3 linked regions of the Homo sapiens genome follow. The protein of the gene in region 2 interacts with the protein of the main gene of each other region in a pairwise test. Each region holds a gene or a part of one and is shown on either strand. Other genes may lie near its edges.

Region 1 (7,366 bases), on a different chromosome or scaffold from region 2:
GCAGGAATGCCTCCGGGGGGCTCTCTTGGCAGCTCGTGCATTGTGACGAATGAAGTCCACCCCCAGGCCTGGCTCCTGCAGGACACAGCAAGCGTGGGTGGGGGCAGACAGCATTATGTTGTGTCCCTGAACACCCCCCCCACACCAGGAGCCCTGCCCAACCACCATCTAGCCCCCATACATCCTCTCACCTTAGCTTCGGGACCTGGTGGGGTTGGCTGGGGACTAGATACATGGGGTGGTGGGAGGCCAGGGCCGCAGCGGGAGTGCGCCCGCAGGAAGTGGGCAGACTCTGTCCCAGAGGCAGGGCCAGGCTCCTGGAGGGCAGGGCACAGCAGAGAGAGCAGGCAGGCTGAGGTCTGGGGCTCAAGCTGCAAGACCCTGGCCATCTTGGCCCTTCTGACCTTTGCATCCATGTCCCTCGGGCCCTCTTCCCTCTTCAAGGGACACTTGTCCTCATCAGCACACAAATGTGTGAGTATGTCAGATTTTTAAGAAAACAACAAACCATCTCTCCTTCCACCTCAGTACTGGCCCAGCTACCACTCTCTTTCCTCCTTCCTAGCCAAGCTTCCTGGCTCTAGCCCTGCAAGGCTCCTAACAGCTGGCCTCCAAGTCCTCAAATCCAGGCGGTCAATTCCTTGGTCTCGTTGTCCTCAACCTGATCGTCAATAACTCCTAGGTCTCACTCCTGAGATCCAGGCCTGAATTTCCATCTGCTTCCTGGACACACTCCCACCCCCTGGGAACCCCACAGATGCTTCAGCTACAACACATTTGTGTGACCTTGCCTTTCCTCTCACTCCTGCTCCTCCTACTGAGTCCCTGAGACAGAGCCCCCCACCATACCCCTGCCCTTCCCACTGTCCTCAGAAATAAGGGCTGAAAAGTGGCTTTTGTGGCCCCTGACGTGGGTCCAGCTGACTTCTTGGCCTAACTTCACGCCCTTCTTTCCTCACAGTGAACTGTACCTAGCATCTCCACTGCTGCGTGCCCTGTGGTCTGTGAGGTTCCATCTTTTGGGAATGTTCTCTTCTGCTGTCCCTTTGACTAATTGCTACTTGCCCTCAGGATCAGCCCCACCATCACTACTTCTGAGAAGCCCCCCAGCCTCGCCCTGCAGCAGAGCCAGGGTCTCTTAGTCCTCTGTTACCTCTGTGACTTCCCTCCCACCCCAGAACTCAGATCAGGGTACAGTTGCCTGTTGGCCAACAAAATGGATAATACTTCTGGCTCCCTGAAGCAGGTACCTGGAGCTGGGCCTTGACCCGGGACTCCACCTTGTCGTACTTGGGTGAGCGCCACAGAGCTTTCAGGGGCCTGGGCTGGCCCTGCTCCCGGCTGCGCTCCTGTTCTCTGAAGCGCTTCTGAATCTCCCTGATCCGCCTCAGGTTCTCCTTCTCATGGTCCTTAGGGTCCTTCCCTGGAGAAAAGATGCCCCCAGGTTCTGCCCTACATGGGGCCCACACAGTCCAACTTCCACTAGTTCACACACAGGCCTGCCCCCTGCCTCCTACAGAAAGAGCTCCCTGACCTCTCCAACTACCTTAGACCCTACACACACTCTCCCTCATCACCGTGTTCCCTTCCTCATGTAGTAAGTATCACAGGATGATTTTCTCCATTATTATTATTATTATTATTATTTGAGACAGGGTCTCACTCTGTCACCCAGGCTGGAGTACAGTGGCATGATCATAGCTCACTGTAGCCTCAACCTCCCCGGCTACCTCAGCCTGCCGAGTAGCTGGGATTACAGACACACTCCACCATGCCAGCCTGATTTTTGTATTTTTTGTAGAGATGGGGTTTCACCATGTTGGCCAGGCTGGTCTTCAACTCCTGGACTCAAGTGATCTGCCCGCCTGGGCCTCCCAAAGTGCTGGGATTCCAGGAGTGAGCCACTGCGCCCAGGTGATTTCCTCCATTATTATAGTGAAGTACACCATTGAAGTACACCATAGATCATCTCATATATGACATTCATCTCTTGATCTTTGTATCCCACCTTGACTCAGTGATGGCTCATGCTTATCTTCAGCCCTGTGTTCTAGCATCTATATGGCCTGGCACACAGTAGGCACTCAACAAACAAATTTAATGGGTAACAAATGCATAAAGCAGAGCTAGGGCTTCGTGGGAACTACCTCATTCAGTTCACCTCCTTCGAGAAGGTAGCATATTTCTCCCCCTTTTATAGTTGGGGAAACTGAGACTCAAGAGATGCAAAGCCTGGGCCCACGTCAGGGTGGAAAGAGCAGCTGCTTTTGATCTCTTTCCACCCCGCACTGCCTCTCTGTCCCTTCTTCCATTCCTGGGACTTACTCTTGAGAGAGGCCCCAGGACCTAGGGAGATCCCCTCGAGTTGCAACAGCACGTCCCCGACGCCGCGCTGGCCGCGCTCCAGGATCTCTCCGGCACCGGGACCGATGCAGGGGCCACGGGGAGCGGTGGTGTCCAGGGCCCGGTCGGAAGTCAGCAAGTCCAGCTTCAGCGCGTTTCCCTCGAGGCGCCCTTGAGCTGTGGGGCGGAGCCGGGCGGAGTCCGGGGCTCAGAGGTGGAGCCAGGGCCGACCCCTGAGCCTCGCACCACCGCCAAGCCCCCGGACTCACCCGAGGTCGGCCGCCTGTAGTTGTCAGGACAGAGCGTCGGGTCTGGGGGGATGGGCCCCGAGATGCGGGACGGGCCCTCGCACATGCCGCCGGCGCCGCCCAGCAACGGTGCCCCGAGGCCTGCAGGGCTGTTTACCTCCCTCCCCGGGCCCCCTTCCCCAACCCCGGGCCCCCTCCCTCGCCCGGCACCCTGACCCTGGCGTGCCCGCCACTCCCGGGCCCCTGCCGGTCCCCGCCTGGGCCCCGGCCTCGCTCGCCACCTCCGCGACCTCTGCTCCCAGCCCACTTCTCGGTCCCGCTCGCGGCCTCTCCCCCGCGGCACTCGGGCAGGGGCTCACTCGAGAGGTTTTGCCGCCAGCCGCTGCCACCCGACGGGACTTGTTGTTGCCGGGCAACCGTGGCTTCCGTCCCCGGGGTCAGGGCCCACTGACCCCGGCGCAAAGCGTCCTGGGGCTTGTAGTTTCGGCCGAGGGTGGGCTCCGCGGTCGCCGGTTTCTCTTCCCAGCTCTGCCCTCGCTTGCTGGCCGGTCTCCGGGGTCAGCGCGGGGCCACCATCCAGCCCCTTGGGGCCCGCCCCAAGCAGCTGTCGAGGACGCACTCAGCCTGCGCAGCCATGGCCTCGGCAGGGGCGGAGAGGCGGCCGGGGGTCCAGGAGGCGACGGTCGTGGGGCAGGGACAGCTCACGGAGGAGCCCGGCAGCGCTCAGACCTCCGAGGTGACCGTCAGGCTGTTTAACCTTCAAACACAGGGCCGCAGCGCTCTGAGAGGTGGAACTGAGCGCCCCGACCCGCTAACTGCCAGGCTGGGCCCTCCAGGCGGGGAGGGGCACAGGCTGGTGTCCTTATTCCCGTTTCGGTGTCTAACGTTAGGTGTTCAGTGACGGATCCCTATGTCCTTTGCCCGGCCATGGTGACCGATGGCCTGTGTGTCATCTCTAGTGTCCAGTGGCGGGAGACCAGTTCCTGGTGCCTGCCCATGAGGCCCGCGGAACCCAGAGTGAAGACCAGCGCCCAGCAGGCGCAGCTTCGGAGTCGGAGCTCCAGGAGGAAGGACCCAAGCTGGGGGAGGAGCGGCCCAAGCCGCATGCCGGGGCGCTAGAGGAGAGAGGCCCCAGGCCCGTGGTCTCCATTGTGAGGCCCCGTCATGGTCCAAAGAGAAAGCCTGTCAAGTGAGGGGGCTCTCGGGGGGAAGGAGCTGCAGCCCCGGGGTTGGGGCACACACCACAGTAGGATTCCTAAATCCTGCACTCCTGCAGGGAGGATTCTCGTCCCCAGCCACTACCATCACTCTCCTCCCGTTCCTCAAGAGCCCCCGTGTAGGGAGCAGCAGGAGAGTGGGAGCTTCAGGGCTTGTAGGGGCCTGGGCTCACTGGCCTCTAAGCCTCTTGGGCCTGGGGTCTCATTGACCAGGAACGGGACAGGCGTCGAGCCCTGGGGCTGTGGGCAGGCTGGGCTATTCCCTGGGCCAGGGAATGGGAGCCAGGGCTGGAGCCTGGCTCAAGTCTCTTGTCCCTGGCTCAGGTCTCTCAGCCTCCCGGGCCTTCGTGCCCATCTTAAGGCTGAAGCTGAGCTGCCACCCAAGCTGCCGCTGCAGGAGGAGGAGCCAGAGGACAGCCAGAGTGAGCCCTCACCATCTGCCAAACAGCACAAAAAAGCCAAGAAGCGCAAGAGCCTGGGGGCTCCCGTGCTCCACGCTGTGGCCAGCATGGTGTCTGCACCCTTAGAGACATTGAGGCTGGAGCGTGAGTGGCAGTCCCTGGACTGTTCCTTCTCCCCCTGCCTGTGGGGCCCGACATGGCACAACCTGGCGCTCTAGCCTCTGCCCTGCCCTGGGTCTTTGCAGGAAAGGCCCAGCGCCTGCGGCCGCTGTACCAGTACGTCAACTATTGCAACCCTGAGCTGAACCAGGCAGGGAAGGGGGACGGGGAGGCTGAGGTGGAGGCAGAGGCAGAGCTGGCCCCGGTTCCCGAGGAGGGAGGTGTGGAGCAACTGCAGGCCTTGCTGCCCTTGGCAGGTGAGCTGGGCCCAGGCCTCGCTTTGCCCTGTCCCAGTCCACTAGTGACCCCCACCCATGCCCTGGCTCCCCTCGGAGAGGAGGCTGGAGAGGAGCCTGGGGGCTTGCCCAGCTTGGGGGTGAGTGACCACAAGGCCGAGGTGGATAAGTCAACCCAGGTGGACATCGACAAGATGCTGAGTGTCTGCACTGCTCCACTTGTCCCCCCGCTCTCTCCTCAGTACAAGTGACTGTCCCGCCCCACTGGTGGCTCCCCTCCTTCCACGCCTGAATTTGGCTTCAGGCTTCCTGTGGGCCTAGGCCCTCTGGTGGCGGGGGCAAATTTGGCACCTGCCCCCACTTGGGACTTTGGTCTTGCTGAAAATAAATATTTTTCTTTTTCAAAGACTTTGTGATTCCCCAGATAGGTTGCCTGAAATGGGTAAGAGGATGGAGGACTCAACAGTGCAGGGTTTGAGGCCTGAATGGTCATCTGCATCACCTGAGACTTTGACAATGACAGATTCCTTTGTGCCACCCCATGCCTCACTGAATCAGGGTGGACCTGGTGCTGTGTGTTTAGGTGAATCTGAGGGTCAGGCAGCTAACTGGGTGATGAAGAGGGAAGTGAGAAGGAGGAACTTGGGGCAGAGAAAAGAAAGGGTCTGTTGGGTCATGGGAAGCAGGTGTTTGGCCCTGCTCTTCTGTCTCCTGGGGAAGGGCCTGCATTTGGTCTCACCTTGAGGGGATCAAAACTTGGGATCCTCCTAGGAGGTAGCACAGAGTTCTTTTGCCTGTCACAACAGTGACAGCTTTGGGATGTTTCCTACTCATTGCCAGACCATAGCTGGACCGGACCTTGTCTGTGGAGTAGCCTCTGGTCACAGGTGACAGGGCATCAGTGATGTTTTCCTGGCAGGCAGGGGTGGACAGGGGCAGTAAGTGCATCTGGGACCCTGAGGCCAAGCCACTGGATGACAGCTGTGTCCAACCGGCAAGGATCTCTGGGAAGAGCCAGCCAGTGTTGGCCATTTTGGAAACTGCACATCCTGGGCCTCCTGTGTGTTCCTTGGACACCACAAACAGACACAGGGAATTTTAAGTTCATGGAAATTTCCCCTTCCTCCAACTGGCTTTTCCTCCTGTATCTCATCTGCACAATTGTTTAAGCTAGAATCTTGGGTGTCACCCCAGACCCCATCCTGTTCTTTGCTCCCTGATTCCTACAAGCTAAGCAGACATTGAGGCCAGTGATCCTACCCTTTCAGGCTGAGAACCTCTCGGACCCCACAGTCAGCACCGTCGCCTGGACCACTGTCATCTCCAGGTGACAGCCTCACTGGTCACCCTGCCTGTCATCCCTTGGCCCACGGATCCATCCAGTGGCCCTGTGACACACACACCTGAGCCCCTGATGGTGTCACTCCCCCTTGGGATTCCCCTCCTCTTGCCCCAGCTACCTTAGAATTCAGTGGCTTCCGGTAATTCCCTGAGCAGTTACACCTTTTCCTCCCTTCACTCTGTGCATGTGGGGCTTTCTCTGCCTAAAATGCCTTTATTCCCACCTCTCCCCCTGGCTAGTGCACGCACACCTTTGAAAACTTGGGATTCTGCTTCCTGGGGAGCCAGACAGCACCCCATGTTGCCCTGCATTGCAGCCCCTGCGCATTGCTATCATGTGGGTTATAACTGTCATCGGGATTAGACCGTGAGCTCCCTAAGGGCACATCTCATTGCATCACATCGACCTAGCCAGAGGGCCCCTTAAAAGGCACCAAGGTGATGAGACTGAAGTGAGGGGTGGAGGAAGCTGCAGAGAGGGACAGGCCAGAATCTGAAATGCTGAGGCCATCCCGAGGCCACAGTCTAATATGTAGGTTCCCTGGAATATGGCCTGGCAAGGTCACTGGAGGGAGTAGGGTGGGCAGGTTCAGGTGGGAAAAGCAGGGTCCCCTTTCTGGCATCATCCCAGCCTGCTCCCTCCTTTGACAGGGTCACTTGGGTGCTCACTGGCCCCATGACAAGCCATGGGGGTCAGGACTTTTTTTTTTCTTTGAGACAGCATCTCGCTCTGTTGCCCAGGCTGGAGTGCAGTGGCACAATCTTGGCTCACTGCAACCTCTGCCTCCCGGACTCAAGGATTACAAATGTGAGCCACCGTGCCCGGCCAAAAATTTTTTTTGTGGAGATAGGGTCTGTGTTGCTCAGCTTGGTCTCAAACTCCTGACCTCAAGCAATCCTCCCTCCTTGACCCCCCAAAGTGCTAGGATTACAGGCATGAGCCAAAACACCCAGCCAAGATAATTGAGCTTAACCTCCTTGCTTTATGTTTGGGATGGCAGAGGCCTGGAGAGAAGTGGCCTTGCATGAGACCACACCCTGGGATCTAGGAATCCCTGTCTTGAGTTGTGCAGGATCTGCCGACCTGGGGGCTCTCTGGCTAAGGCCGGACCCAAGAAGGCCTCTGTATCTTTGTGCGGTCTCCAGGGCTGGAAGCGTGAACGAGGCCAGCACTGATAAGGAAGAGCTGGTCCTGTCTTCTCACAGGTGAGGCAGGAATTAGAAATCGTGGGAGAACTAGTCTGCAATTCCTGAGGCCTATTACCCAATGGACTTGTCTAAGCAGGGTGGGTAGTAGGAGCTGCAGAAAGGACCAAGTCCCTACTGCTCCTAGAAGCTCGCTGTAAAGAGGAAATGCTACATTATTTAGGGAGACGTGTAGCTGGGCGTGGTGGTCTGTGTCTGTAGTCCCAGATATTTGG
Region 2 (8,002 bases):
CACACCCCTCATGTTCTTTCTACCTCTCTGGCTTCTTCTACTTGGTCTCCTCTAAATATCCTAAATATCTGTCTTCCTTGCTCTATTTGTCCCCCTTTAGATGTTGGTTTTCATGTAAGTATTAATATAACCACTGACCTTTTGCTGTTTAATATATGCTTACTGAAAGATCTCAAAGCTACAACTCTCACTATACAGTGAGGACTCCCAAAATTTAGATCTTTAAACCTTGTTTCTCTCCAGTACCGTATATTAAAGACACTAAAAGTTCAACACAAACAAAAATAAATTAATTATATTCATCATCTCCCAACCCTCAAATCTATTCCTTTTGTACTTTTCTATTTCAGTGAAAGGTCCCCCTTGCTCAAGCAAGAAACTACTTCTCCCTCATCACCCACGTCCAATCAATCACCTAGTCCTGCCAATTTAACTCCTAAATATTTCTGAAAATCCCTCAACATCCTCCATCCCCACTGCCACTTCCCCAACTCAGGGTATCATCAACTCTCTCCTGGAATACAACACCATCTCCTGACTACGCTCGCTCGCTCTCTCTCACTCTTGCTCTCTCTCTCTGCTTCCAGTCTTGCTGCCCTCCCCTTCAGTTTCCATCCTGTAGCTGGTTTGAATTCCATCTCTGCCACTTACTGGCTGCATGAAACTGGGTGAGGTACTTAATCTCTCTTTGCCTCATTTTCTATTATATAAAATAAAAATAATAGCAGGACCTCTCTCACAAAGTGATTGTGAAGATTTAAAAAAGTATACCAAAGTTTATACACATAAAGGAATTCAAATAGGGCCTGGTACATAGCAAGCATTCAATAAATGTATGCTATTATTTTATTAAAAGGTAAATGTGATTATAATATGCCCTGGCTTAAAATAATTCCATACCTCCCCACTGCCTTCATTAAAAAAAAAAAAAAAAATCTAGACTTTCTAATATGGCTGACAAGGACCTTTAAGATCTGACCTCTACCCACCATCACCATTCTACTCTAACTCTACACTCTATGCTCTAGCTATCCTTAACTACTTGAGGCTTCCCGATCTGGTCACTCCCTGTCTCTGAACTTCTACACATGCTGTTGATGCTTCTTCCCCGCACCCGCCAACCCCCTAGCCAATTCAACTCACTTTTATTTATCAGCTTAGAATTCACTTTGTCCAGGAAGCCTTTGCTGACCACCACTTTGTCCACCACCGCCTACAATAAACTGTACTATAGCAATTCCAACCCCACCCATCACAGACCCATGATAATATAATGGTTCAGTTATCCGTATTACCCCTCATCACCACCAGACAATAAGCTCTGTGAGGACTAGGAACTAGGTGACAACTAGGACTAGGAACTAGGTGACAACTAGGACTAGCTCTGTGAGGACTAGGAACTAGGTGACAACTAGGAACAGATGACAACTAGGACTGTTGTTCACTAAATTTCAGTACTAAAACACCGGCGGAAATCCTAACTGCCATTTACTAGCAGTGTATCCTTCGACAAATTATCACTTCTGTGTTCCTTTCCTCGTCTATAAAATGTGGCCAAAGATACCTACCTCATAGGGTTATTTTGAGTATTAAATGAAGTAATGTAAGTGGCAAACAAAGTGCTATTTAAACGTTAATACAAGGAATCCAATGTTACCGCAATGCTGAGTAAACAATGTATGGAAGGGTCTGGTAAGCCCCACTCAGTGGAATTCCCAGCTTCAAATACCCCTCTAAATGAATATTAAAGATTTTTTAATTTCCTCTGTGCTTTTAATACAATAAACAATGAATGGTATATACAGAAATCAAATATATTTTAAATGCCTCTGAGGAATCAGTCATGTAACTTAAACCCAGGAGAAATTATCACAGCATGGTAAACCCAGAAGTAATAGTAAAGATAATGAATTACCCCACATTGGAGCACTTCCCTTCCTCTCATTCCACCGAAAATACCCCACAAAAAAACAAAAATCACGAATGTTCACTCTAAATACACTTGCCTACATTTTTAAAAAAGCAATTCTAATGTCCACAGGAGTTGCCAGTTACCACCTCTTGGTGACAACCTTTAATAATCCTAGAATTGGTGCTGTCCCAGTCAGAAGTGTCCAATTTTAAGGCACAGAAAGGCGAACTGGCAAACTCCCAGCTCTCCTGACACCGAATCTGGTGCAACTGCGGAATCCGTATGACAGATGACAATGCAAACCGCCAATCCCTCTGCAGCGCTCTGAGACACGTTCACTTATTTTCTAAATAAATACCAAATCTGCCATTCCCTCCTCACTCAACACACCTTCCTGGATTTTGTTTGTTTGTTTTTTGAGACAGGGTCTTGCTCTGTCGCCCAGGCTGGAATGCAGTGGAGCGATCTCGGCTCACTGCAGCCTCGACCTCCTGGGCTCAAGCTATCCTTCCACCCCAGCCTCCCAAATAGCTGGGGCCACAGGCTCACACCACCACACCCGGCTAATTTTTGTACTTTTGGTAGAGAAGAGGTTTCACCATGTTGCCCAGGCTAGTCTGGAACTCCTGGGCTCAAGGGATCCTCCCGCCTTGGCCTCTCAAAGTGCTAGGATTACAGGCGTGCGCCACCGCGCCCGGCCCCCGGTTTTCTTTAAACTCGAAGTTGCGCGGGAGGAGCGCCGCACTGGAGGTCGATGTGGAGCCTTCGGGAGTTCCTCGCGCGCCCCAGCCCGGAACCCAGGGACGTCAGGGTTGCTCCAGGGCCCCCGGCGCCCCTCGGGTCCCAGGCGCCCATCGCGGCTCTGCACACGGACGAGGACTCCTCGCCCTTCCCTCCGCGGCTGCCAGTGCGGATCTCCCTTCTTCCAGAGAAGACCCCGGGCCGATAGTCCCCGAAAGGGCCCCGCGGCCGCGCTCCTCACCTCCGCCGCCTCCTCTTCCCCGGGATCCAGACTATCTAGGTCCCAGCCCAGGGACGCGGTCACCTCCTCCAACGTCCGGCAGCCGCTCTCCACGAACTCGTTCAGCTCCTCCTGCAGCCGCCGCCGCTCCTCCACAGGTGGAGGCTCGCCCTCCATAGCTGCAGCCCACCCGCCAAGAGGAAGCGGCCGAACTGCAGACCGCACGCGCAGGCCTCTGGGAGCTGTGGGCGGGGCCACAGTCGCCACGTGACTTGAACAGCCTATAGGGAAGAGTCCCGGGAAGGGCGGGACTGTTATTTTGAGAGGCGTTTTCCAATCTTTTCTCAGCTCTTGCGTGCATTTGCTCTGGCCTTTCCAGAAAGATATTCGCCCTCCTCGACTTCCTCAGAAAAAACGGCTTATAGCTACAGAAAAGTTTTAAAAATAGTACAATGAGCTTTCGTTTAGCCGTCCTTCAGCTCATTGTTAACATTTTGCCAGGTTTGATTTCTCTCCGTCTCTTCTCTCCACATTCACAGCCCCACCCAATGATTTTTGCTGAATTCTTTGAAAGTAAGTTGCAGATTTTTCACCCCCAAATATGTTAGCATGCATGTTCTAAGAATAAGAACATTTTCCTGTGTAACCGCAATACATGATCAAACCTAAGAAAATTAGTAAGTCCATAAAATCATTTATTATACAGTTCATATTCAAATTTCCCCATTGTCCCCAAAATTATTTCTATAGCAGTTTTATTTTTTCAACTCATAAGCTATAATTAGTTATTGTCTCTTTTAATCCAGATCAGCCTCCTTCACCCTCCTTTTTAAATTATTAAATCATTACATGTTGTGATGAGCCTAGGCCAGTTGTCTTGTAGAATCTCTCTCATTCTGGATTTGTCAGATTTTGTTTCCCTCATGATTAGATTCAGTTTGAGCACTTTTGCAATACTACCTAAGAGATGTTGCCAACTCACGGGGACGCATAACTCAGTTATATTAGTAATGCTAAATTTGATCACTTGGTAAAGGTGGTGGCTACATCTCTTCATTCTAATAGTACATTTTCCTCTTAGGAATTGGTAAGCAATCTGTGGATTATACCTTGAGTCCATAAGAATAACCTGTTCCCCAACTCCTTGATACAGTCCTTCACTGAATCTGTTGTTACATTAGGAGTTATAAGTGATTCCGCAATAGTATCATGCCTTTTATGTTTATTAACTGGCATTCTTTCCACACCTCCATTTTAGTGTTTGCTTCACTATGGGAATCAAGGTGTTTTTAAAGTTATTGATTTAAGGTTTTTTTTTAATTCAATATAATATACTCCTTTAACATCATAATTCTTGTTGATGCTCAAATTGTCCCAAATGTGGCCAGTGGAAGCCACATTAAGCCATCTGTGTCTTTCATGTATCCCTATTAGTCCTTGAATGCTTTCTTGCTTTGATAACACAAGCTTAACTTTGTACATTTCCTACCCAACACCTGGAATTAGCCCTTGTAGTTTCCCCAAATGGTTTCAACTCCTAGAATCTAACCCATTTTATATTACTTTTTAAAATTTTTTCAAGCCCAAGTGTCAAACCTTGGTTTCCTTTTGCACTTTGTTTACCCATGTGAAGGAACTGTGGGGGAATTTTTTGGTGAACAATTATTTCTAAAGGCAAATAGCACGGTTCTCACTTAAAAAAATAGTCATAAGACTATAAATAGGCAGCACCATAAAATACAGAAGTGGCTAGAAGCTGGTAAGAGAGGAGTATGAAGTTAATGTATTCATACTCTGCCTACAGTATCTTTTTTTTTTTTTTTTTGAGACGGAGTCTGGCTCTGCCACCCAGGCTGGAGTGCAGTGGCGCAATCTCAGCTCACTGCAACCTCCATCTCCCGGGTTCAAGCAATTCTTCTGCCACAGCCTCCCGAGTAGCTGGGACTACAGGCACATGCCACCACACCCTGCTAATTTTTCTATTTTTAATAGAGATGGGGTTTCACCATATTGGCCAGGCTGGTCTCGAACTCCTGACCTTGTGATCTGCTCGCCTCAGCCTCCCAAAGTGCTGGGATTACAGACGTGAGCCACCGCGCCCAGCCCGGTATCCTTACTTTTTATTTGCATTTCCATAGTTAGCTGGTTGGTCTGGAAAAATGTGAGACTATTTCTGATGTGACATGACTCCTGATAAAAAGTTCTAGTGTATATTTCCCTGTTTGTATATGTGAACCAAATTAAAACTTAGCCCACGTCAAACATATCCTCTCTTCAGGATACAGCCCCATGTCATCTCAGAGCTTCATGACAACATTGGCACAAGCCTGGAGGGAGTAGGAAAGATTTGTCAATTGACTGTACTCTCTAGTTACTGTTTCAGCCCGAGGAACTGCTCTACACTGATGCTGCTGATCTGTTTTGATATCACTTTCCTGGAGTGGTCTCCAGACTCCTGTTCTAGGCTAGGCCTCTGTTATGGATTGGATTGAGTCCCTCAAAAATGCCTATGTTGAAGTACCAACCCACAATGTGACTGTATAAGGAGATAGAGCCCTAAGAGGTAATTAAAGTTAAATGAGGTCATAAAGGAGGGGTGGGTACTCTAATCAGATAAGACTGATAGCCACCCATGAGCCAGGTTTCACTAGAAACCAGCCCTGCCTGCATCTTGAGCTTGTACTTTTAGCTTCCAGAACTGTGAGAAAATACACTTCCGTTTAAGCCGCTCACAGTCTGTGGCATCTTGTTATGGCAGGGTGAGGTGACTAATATAGTCTCCCAGCTCTAGCATAAGGAATTTCCTTCATTTTTCCCAATACAGCATTTACCACATTTTCTTCTTCCTTTTGGATTATGAGGGCTCTTTTTCACCATGTATTTCTAGCACAGACTCCATGGCTTCTGGCACAATGCATGGCACGCGAACTCAGTATTTAATGCATAAAATTAATTTCAACTCCTCCAAATTAGGAGAGGGAGTAAGGAAGAAGAGGTGAAATAAGGAAGAAAAGAGTGCTGTGGAGGAAAAATAGCCCATGCAATGAGAATGGAGGTGACTTTCACCCTAAGTACCAAAAGCCCCCAATAATTAATCTAATCTTGATTTTTGTTCTATACAATTAGCATGTTTTCCTATTTTCTATCTGTACTATAAAATTTGTATTAATATATACTGCTGACATTTGAAAGTTGTCCCACTGATTGCTTTATCTGTTTCTGTCCCCACCCATATTGCCAATGCTTTGTTGTCGGGGGCTTGTAAATTCTACTCAGTCTTCATAGTACCTAACCCAATACTAGACATGGTGGGTATTCAGTGAAGTCATGTTAATCTAATGACAAATGTGTGAATTTCAGTAGTTTCTCTTTGATCCAAAGGAATAGGCTTATACTTCCTTGTCCTTCAACAGAGAGCCAAGAACTCTTCAGAAATCATTTTCATGGGTTCCAGGACAATTCTTTCCTCTTACGGGACAAAGTGAAACACTATCTATTTTGAGGATACCCAAAAAGCATCTTAGCAACTTCATGTTTTTTCAATGCTATGATGATGACTTTTGCCAATGCTACTTGGTACTCAATGTCCAGAATAAACTAGAACAGGTTATTGACCTCCAGGCTGGCCTCTTTACACAGGCCTTCTTTCCAAGGACTCCATCGGGTACATGACAGGCATCTGAGAAGTACCGAAAGGACTAACTTCAAAAGACCACCTTCTAGTAAGAATTCAGAACCAAATAGTTTTTTAATGGTATTTCTTCACAGGTATTTAGTAAACAAATATTTTTAGACCTATGATAAAAATATGCTAAATGTTTATACATGCTTATAAACATATTAAATTAAAACACAAACACTTCAAAAGTCTAAAAGTTTATTGCCAGAATAGCAAACTTCATAAAGACACCTTAAAGTACATCGAATATGACAAGCAAAATAAACAGAAAACTTTGACCAAAGAAAAGATTGCCGCTGTCATGCACAGTCAAATTAATACCAAACCAAACAAGTACATCGAAGAGTATATGGGTTATACAATCCACACTCTGAAACTAAAGGAGACTCATTCCAAAATGCTTGGTTTTGGGTTGGGGGTTTGAGAGGGGGGCTGGTGCTGGGAGGGTAATTTTCTCCTAATACAGAATATGGAAATATTTAGATGAGAAGCAGAATGACTAAAATATCAGTGATCCATTTAATTTTTATCTCCAAGAATAGAAAACTGTATTATAGGCTTCCAAAATTAAAGAATTGATCAAAAATCGAAACACAGAAGAGAAGAAACAAATCCTAAGTTCGATTTGTGCTATTGTTACAACTGATTAGCACTTCAGACGCACTGCATCCAAGTGTACTGCTTATTTAAGATGAGCTAAGAAGATAAAAAGCCAGAACAGCCTTTACTATTTGATTTCAATCATGGCTATATTTTCTGTAAGCATAGAATGTCCTATCACTCTACTGCAAGCACCGGGATTTTCTTTTCTATTATTTAATAAAGTGGAAATTCATATAAATGAAGTCAAGGTATAGCAACCACTCCCAACTGACTACTAGTGCCCAATAGAACTACTGCTAAATGAGTAGGAATAAGAGTAGGAAGAATTCCCTGTGGCGTCAAAGCTTCCTCTCCGGGACCCACTGCGGGACCCGGAGCGAGATCCGGAGCGAGATCCCGAGCGGGAGCCGGAGCGGGACCCCGGAGCCGAAGACATGTTGTAAGGGCTGGGTAAGCCCTTGGACGACACGGAGGCGGCTTCCAGAAGGCGCAGCCCAGTGATATCTTCTACCATGGAGCGATTTATGGCATCCTTATAGGATATTTTTAATTTGGTTTTGGGGCAGGTCAGGATTTTGGCATAGCTGCTGGTGTCTTGCAGCCTCTGTGCGGCGCGGCCATCTATGAACCCCTTCCGGATGGCTTCTTCGGTGCTTATCCTCCCATGCACTTCCGGGTCAACAAGACCTCCCGTGAGGTACTGGAACTCCAGGAAGCGCTGGCCAGCCTCATACGGGAGCCATTTTTCTTTCACTGCCTCTGCTGCTGACATCTTCTTCTTTCCCTTCACACCCTCGAAGCCTATGAAGGCTTTCTGAGCAGGCTTCAGCCTGGTGGCCATGTCTTG
Region 3 (7,442 bases), on a different chromosome or scaffold from region 2:
TGCAGCTAAGAGACCAATACCAGAAAAATACCCCTTTACCCCTTCAACAGCGTGCTCCTGCCTATTTACAAGAACATTTAGCATCATTTCCTTCTCAAATGGGCCATCCTGTACTCTGGAGCTAGAACAGAGTACGAGGAGAACACTGACATTCAGTGCCTACCAGTTTCTCTCCTACGGAGCTGCAGCAAGCTGGAGCTCCCATGAGCTGCACTGTTGACAGCTCTTAGTCAGGGATCACACCCTTGCCTTTACGAGCTATTTCTGTCATTTTATATAAAAGCACAAAGACACAGTGGTCAGCACGACAAGACTACAGCCTGGGGGAAGCGTAATCACTGTCAGAGGACATCAAATCCAACACACTGGTGGGATGGCAGGAAAGCAGACTCGAAAGTAGTTCAGAGTAAATGAGTCTCCTTGTTTGCTTCTTACTCATAACATTAGGCCTAAGCTGCTTTGCTGAAACACTTAGCTCTGCGCTTTCCAAGCGATAGAAATTATACTTACTCCAATGTGTGAGATGAAAACCCACTGCACACTGAGCTGAGCGACATTTGATGTGCAGTAATGCCACTTCAGGTGGTTCATCACATTGCTTTATTCATAAGGCTGGGGGACAGGGTGGAACCACACGAATTTAACATCTTGCTGTGCCTGAAATGTTCATTAAGTGTTCTTATCCGCAGTCACCTGCCCACCCCACAGAACCACTCTCCACTAATTTAGAGACTATAATCTGTGCACATTTAAATTACGATGAACAGGAACATTTCCACTGGAAAAACCATCACACATCTTTGATTTGCACTGCCAATTAGGTCTTCAGAAAAGGAAAAAAAAAAAAACCCTGATCATCTTACATATAGTAATTTGCCTTAATTGGTGCATAATGGATCGGATATAATTTGTGGGTAACCCCTACATGATAAATAGTTTATTTAACATTTTAGAACTACCAAAAATTAGCCTCATTGTGTGGCAGTAAACGCTCACTTCCAACTACACATTCTGGGACTTCTGAGTTTCCTAAGCATGAATTATGAATATCAGTAGTGGAAGTGCAAAGAACTCTCCAGCTTAACAACAGGAGTGACACATTCCAGAAACATTTTCTGATTACATTCACAAGGAGCTCCGGAGTGATAAATTCCAGATACATTTTCTGACTAAACTCACAAGGAGCTCAAATCTCCATCCAGAGGGTTTGTTTTTTGTTTTTAGTCCTGTAGCAACAGAAACTCCTAGAAGGTTAGGACGCCAGCCGGAAGTGGTGGCTCACGCCTGTAATCCCAGCACTTTGGGAGGCCGAGGCAGGTGGATCACCTGAGGTCAGCAGTTCAAGACCAGACTGGACAACATTGTGAAACCCTGTCTCTACTAAAAAAAAAAAAAAAATACAAAAAATTAGACAGGCGTGGTGGCGGGCGCCTGTAATCCCAGCTACTCGGGACGCTGAGGCAGGAAAATTGCTTGAACCCGGGAGGCGAAGGTTGCAGTGAGCCGAGGTCGCGCCATTACACTCCACCCCGGACAAGAGCGAAACTCCGTCTCCAAAAAAAAAAAAAAAAAAAAAAGGATGCTAATACACGGTAAAAGCCAGTGGCAAAAAATAAAAAATCGAACCCTGTCTCATTCCGTAGGCTTTACTGTTTCCCTTGCTTTTAATAGTTTATCTCACAGGAGGCATTTTAAAAATATTCTCAGAAACATCAACAACAGATTTTTCTCAAGCGACCATTTTCAGGAAGGCTTCAGAAATTACTAAAAGGCCAAAGCTACCGTTAGTGGCTCAGTCTTTGCCGCCAGACTCGGGCAGGTGACAGCGGTTTGGGCTCGGGCGCCGGGCACTCTGCGCCTTCCAACGCTGGCGGCCCCGCCTCCCCTTCTCCCGGGCCAGGCACGCAGGTGGAGGAAAGTAAACACCAGTCGGAAGCAAGGTGGAAGCAGTGAGTCTCGCGACTCTCAATAAAACAAGTGGAAAAAAAAAAAAAAACAATCCTCGCACAAAGCATCTCCGTGCTCCCACAAGCAGAGGCGTGGCTGCTTGTTTCCCTTTTTAAAGGTTGTATTTTTAGTTCTTATGAAAAATGTTTTTATTGCTTACTTCTAAGTAAACATGTATCTCCATTACGATAACGTAGAGAAAAGCTCTTTTAAGAAGTAAAAAGAGAAAACTGAAGTCACGTTCACATTCCCACTACTCACTGAAACGTTTGGGGGAACTTACTCAAGTGTTTGCTAATGAGTTTTAAAGACGAGTTAGGCCCTTAACGCGTAATTGGGGTCGTGCTGTGCATATGATTTGGGATCTTGCAGCTTGTTTAACTCGGCCCAATGACGTTACCATTTCCCCCAAATGGTTACTAATTCCTTGAAAACGTTTACAAAAGTTCTAGAATAAACACTAAAGTTATTATTTTTAAACTCCATTATCCAAGTTGGACTGGTCTGGCGATCGACTGTTAAAAAAAAAAAATTACAACTTTCTTAAGCTTCCTGATCTCTGTGCCAATTCCCGGAGAAAGTGTGGGGAGTGCACAAAAAAAGCCCCTCCCCCGTCTCACGAGGGCTGCAAACGCAGGCGCTGCGCCCCGCTAGCTCCCCGCCTGCACCCCCGGCGGCCACCCGAGACTGAGCAGAGCGCCAGGCTGAGCGCGGTTGTGTGCTGGGGCGACCGGCCTCTGTGGTCCGCGTAGCACAAACGTGACCCACTGCGCACACCTGCAGGGCGCGCCCACTCCGGCACTCAACCGGCTGGGCGCGCCAGATCCCCAGTGCCGCAGCCAAGGGCCACGTTTCCAGCCCAAGGCCAGCAGGACCGGGTGGCAAAGGGAAGTCAAACTGTGGGTGCGTCCGGACGGCGGCGGGCGGCCGGACCCTCACCTGGTAGCGAGTCGCCAACTCCATTCTTCCTAACCGGGCTCCAGTCTCCTCCCAGCACGCGGCCACGGGAGCCCGGACTCACCACGGCCCGGCGCACCAAGAACGCCCCGCGCCCGAGCAGCTAGCGCGCTCCGCCCGGAGCACAGGCGGGCCCCGGGAGGGGCGCACTTGACGCCCTGGACAGGGGGAGCGCGTTGCGCTGCCCCCTCGGTGCCGCCTCACTGGGCCTCGTGGCTCCGATCACGTTCCAACTTCGCGGCCACTGACCTTGTCTTCGCAGGCGGCGCGAGAGGGGGCTGCAGTTGGGCGCGGCAAGAGCAATTACCAGTGTTAGGGCGCCGGGCTCCCCCCTGCAGCAGAGGGAGGGAGTGGAGCCGTCCGGCGGGGTTTAGCGCGGGAGAAATGAGGGGGCTGTCCCGGCGCAGCCTCCAGCTGGCACGCGCGCTGGATACTTGGCAGGGTTTATTCCAGGTCATGCCCTGGGGCGCGAGCTTCTGCTGCAACCCCTGTCTCTGATCCAGGCAAATATTGTAGGGCGGCTTTGGGGCTTGTTTTGTTTTGTTGTTGTAACGGGGCAGGGTTCTCTTTGGGAAGATTCTGTCTCCCAAAACATTTGCTACAGGGTTCACTTTGCAGAACAGGCAACCCAGGTTTCTTTACCAAGGCCCAGGTGGACAGATGCAAACCCGCCTGAAACTTTAGACGGCCATTACACAGTAGGCCTCCACACCCACCAGACAAAGAGTTTGTAGAGGTCAGGAATGCTGACTAATTTAACAGAATTGACCCCGGCATCTACTAAGCATCAGGCACTGGGCTAGTCCTAGGAACAGAAGGGTGAACAAAAACAGGCCCCTGCTCTGTTGGAGTTTACAGCCTGAGAGCCAGTTACCAACCTAATTGCATTATTCTAAATAAATACAATAATGATGCAAATAAGTGTAATAACGATGTAAATTTTATAAATTAGATTTATAATTAATATTAATTTGATACCACTATCAATGACAAATGTAATGATGATGCAAATAAATGTAAATTTGGAGCGATGATGCCATGAGAAAAAAGGCAAGTGGTATTAATGGTGGTGTGAAATAGGAAGACAATCTGATAGAGGTCAGGGAATACTTCTTAGAGTTCAGATATGAAGAGTGAGGAATTAAGTTTGTGGAAATTGTGGGAGAGTTGAAGTAGAGAGTGGGGAGAATGGTAAATGAAGTTGTCCTGAAATCACAGCAGGTTTGCTGGACAGTGTTGCACACCTATTTAGAACCGTGGTCATAGGTTTACAGTAGAGCATCCTGTACGCATAGGACCTTCTGCAGCCCCTCTCAGCTGCTTAGGATCTGACGTTCATCTTTTCTTTATTGAACGAGTGAATGAAATTTGCCAAACATTTACTCAAGCTTGAAGAGAAAACATGGAAAAGGTTTCCTTCCTTCCTTTGGTTAGTTCAGCAAACAACATGTGTTATGTGCTTTCATGTTCCAGCCCTCAGTGTTCTCACTTCCTGGTGGTAGTAAAACCAATACAACATTGTGTGACTTAAAATGTTTTGTTTTTATTGGATAATGTTATTTATTCATTATGGCCACTTCATTTTTATTATGCTTTAGAGTTTTCCTTCACATGCAGTATCTCCTTGAATCCTCTCAATATCCTTCCAGATCCTTATTGTCCACATTTTTAAAATAAGGAAACAGAATCTAAGAAAATACATTAAGAGATCCCTGCCACCCTGCCACTAAGTGACAGCAGCAGACTGCCAAACTGAAAACCATTCCTTATGCCTCCAGATCCAACATTCTTTCCATTTTTCTGTATTTTTTCCCTTTGGCTGCCAGGAAGCTTAGAGTGAAAATTAATTCAATCAGAGCTCTTCTTCCTCTTTTTTTTTTTTTAGATAGTTGCTTCCTCATGAACTGCTGATCTTGTTTGCACTTCTTTTCATTGTAGGTTAAATCAAATCAATTTTGGAAAAGGGAGCACAAATTTGAAGCAGGTCAGATTTTGCAAAACACTTGAAGCAGCCTAGACTAGCTACTTCTGTATCAGGAAACCTGTAAGCTGTTGAACCTTTCTGTTTAGAAATTTGCCATAACTAACCCTAAGTCTTCAGATGACAACCCCTAAATTTTCTTCCTGTGCTTAGCAAAGCCTGTACACGTTTGATGGTATTTAGTAATTGATTATATAGTGGTGTGTTTTGTTTTGTTTTGTTTTGTTTTGTTTTGGTCAGGCTTTGGGAAAATCTCTAAGGAACCAGAGGATTTAAACATGGCACTGCAGTAATACTTTCTAATAATTATTACTGATAGGGTTCACGGGATGTGAGCACTGGGTTTCATCATGGCACTGCAAGAATGAGTGTCCCTTCCAGATGCAACAGTATACATATTGCAACACAGAAAAAGAAGACATAATGTTTGCAACTTCTTTTAAGAAGTCTGTCTAGAAATCCATGCTTGATTGCTTTTTAAATGTTTCCATGAGAGAGTAAAAACTTGGTCCCCAGTACCTTGAACAAGGTAAGAAATTTGTGATTAGAAGCCAAAGGAGTTAATAATGCCACACTAAAATATGCTGCTCTGGCATATTCACTATTTTTAGTTAAAAGCACTTAAAAAAAAAAAAAGCAGGTAGGAGAAGATCACTCTGAACTTAATGTTGTTTCTTAAAAGCAGGAGATAAAATTCCCCTATGAAAGCTGTCCTCCCTACACAAGAAGGAAAGCCACATTCTTATCAAAGACAGGAAATTGAAGCTGAGGGAAATCTGTACAAACAAACCTTGTTAAACTAACCCTTATCTTCTCAGTCACTTCTCCACCCAATTAACTACACTAGCCCATGCCCCTTTGCCTCATCGCATTTTCAGTTTTACTACTCTGTGCAATTCACTATATAAATGTCCAACTCAAACTTCATCCTGGGGTCTTCATTTCCTTAAAAAGGCACCCATGCCACATAAAACTTCGATTAGACAAATCTATATGCTTTTCTCTTGTTAATCTATTTTATGTCAGTTTAATCCTCAGACCCAGCCAGGACCCAAAAGGATGGAGATGAAGTTTTACTCCCCTACAAAGCCATTATTGAACCTCATTAAATGATGTGAGAGAGCTGTAATTGGATGTCAACCCTGGCCCACGATTTTTGCTTTGTAAAAGGAGCCCAAACATCTCTCCTCTATCTGAAGTAGTATCTCTGCCGTCCCCACAGAGCTTAGTTGTGGGCAAACTCCCTAGTCCTCCCCACATAACAGAAAATCGTGCTGGTTTGGTGCTCTGGACAACTCACCAGAGAATCTGCCTTCTGCAGAGAGCTGGAAGCAGCATGAGTCTATAGAAACTGAGAGGTAATTTCATTAGGTCTGCCTCCCCTGCTTGCTTTTGGTCATTTGCCTCTTGGTGTTGTTTCCTTTTCCCACGAAGTTGAAGGCTGCAGTAGCTGAACACCGCACCACTGAACACTGAGACTTAACTTCACTGGCTACTTTATAGATAACGTTCATAGGTCACCGTGGTAACTGTTGCTTCCATTTTTTTTTTTTCTCAGAAACTTAGGCCAGCTTCTGTCCAGTTCAAACTGGTTGAGGCCACTGACTCTTCAAGTGCCTGAGAGGTGGCCTTTTGATGTCAGAGGGTCAAAAACTCCACCCTGAGATCATGCTAACACTGCCATTTTTCTGTACATATGTCCTATATAATGCCATGAACTCTGGCTACATTTGTGCAGAATGAGCCTGTTACTTCGTTTTTTTCCCAGTGCCGATTACATTTCCCCATAACTCAGACCACCCCATTTCCCTAACCCATAAATATCCCTAAGCCTTATCTTCAGGGAGGCGTACTTCAGAGCTATTCTCCCACCTCCTCACTCCATGCCCTTGTGAATAAATCTTTTTTTTCTTTTGCAAAACCCATGTCACACTAATTGATTTACTGTTCAGGGCAGAACAGACTAGGACCTAGCTGGTAACAGTATCTGAGTACCACTTGGCATTGTATGTGGTCGTGAATAAATAAAGTGACCGTTAAACAGGAAAACATCACTGGTTGTTCTCTAGCTCTTGGTCTCTTGAAACTTCCATCTCATTGTGATCAGATAACACCTACCCTAGAATGGGGAGACCTCCCTAAATTTGAAACATTCAGATATAAAATTTCCAAGTTGCTACAGAATCAAAGATCTAGAACTGAGTCTTTTGTAAAATCATCATCTAACACTGACTGGGTGCGTTTCTGGAACGTTTTTCTTTATTATTATTACAACCCGGTATTCCATCTTCCTGACTTGGTATGTCAAGATGATGTTGTCACAACACTGTGATGAAAATCACCCTAATGGCTTATGACAAAATAACCTGGACAATCAAAAATCAGATCTGTCCATATATCAGATGCAGAAAAATACACATCATGATGAAACTTTAATGCCTGTGGTCTTTCAAAAAGTCAATAGTAATAGTGATATCAAGAATAGCAGCTAATTTAAAGAGTACTCACTATGCTCTAAGCCCTGTGCTGAATTAACCTTTGAATGTGTTCCCTCCTT

The links.
Region 1: the proteins of SNRNP48 (region 2) and ENKD1 interact in binary tests that used the Homo sapiens proteins (3 or more experiments, as listed by UniProt).
Region 3: the proteins of SNRNP48 (region 2) and CDCA7L interact in binary tests that used the Homo sapiens proteins (3 or more experiments, as listed by UniProt).

The regions. Positions count from the first base shown.
Region 1 is NC_000016.10:67,663,746-67,671,111, forward strand, and holds the start of ENKD1 (enkurin domain-containing protein 1), read right to left. Parts: upstream 3,006-7,366; 5' UTR 2,698-3,005; coding exon 2,613-2,697; intron 2,521-2,612; coding exon 2,326-2,520; intron 1,424-2,325; coding exon 1,251-1,423; intron 318-1,250; coding exon 192-317; intron 76-191; coding exon 1-75. Other genes in the region: uncharacterized protein C16orf86, read left to right, coding at 3,756-4,353, 4,428-4,855. UniProt on the Homo sapiens protein: Microtubule-binding protein which regulates microtubule organization and stability. Promotes the stability of astral microtubules and facilitates the proper orientation of the mitotic spindle.
Region 2 is NC_000006.12:7,585,306-7,593,307, reverse strand, and holds the start of SNRNP48 (U11/U12 small nuclear ribonucleoprotein 48 kDa protein), read right to left. Parts: upstream 3,111-8,002; 5' UTR 3,051-3,110; coding exon 2,895-3,050; intron 1-2,894. Other genes in the region: DSP (desmoplakin), read right to left, coding at 7,430-8,002. UniProt on the Homo sapiens protein: Likely involved in U12-type 5' splice site recognition.
Region 3 is NC_000007.14:21,942,895-21,950,336, forward strand, and holds the start of CDCA7L (cell division cycle-associated 7-like protein), read right to left. Parts: upstream 3,006-7,442; 5' UTR 2,911-3,005; coding exon 2,887-2,910; intron 1-2,886. UniProt on the Homo sapiens protein: Plays a role in transcriptional regulation as a repressor that inhibits monoamine oxidase A (MAOA) activity and gene expression by binding to the promoter.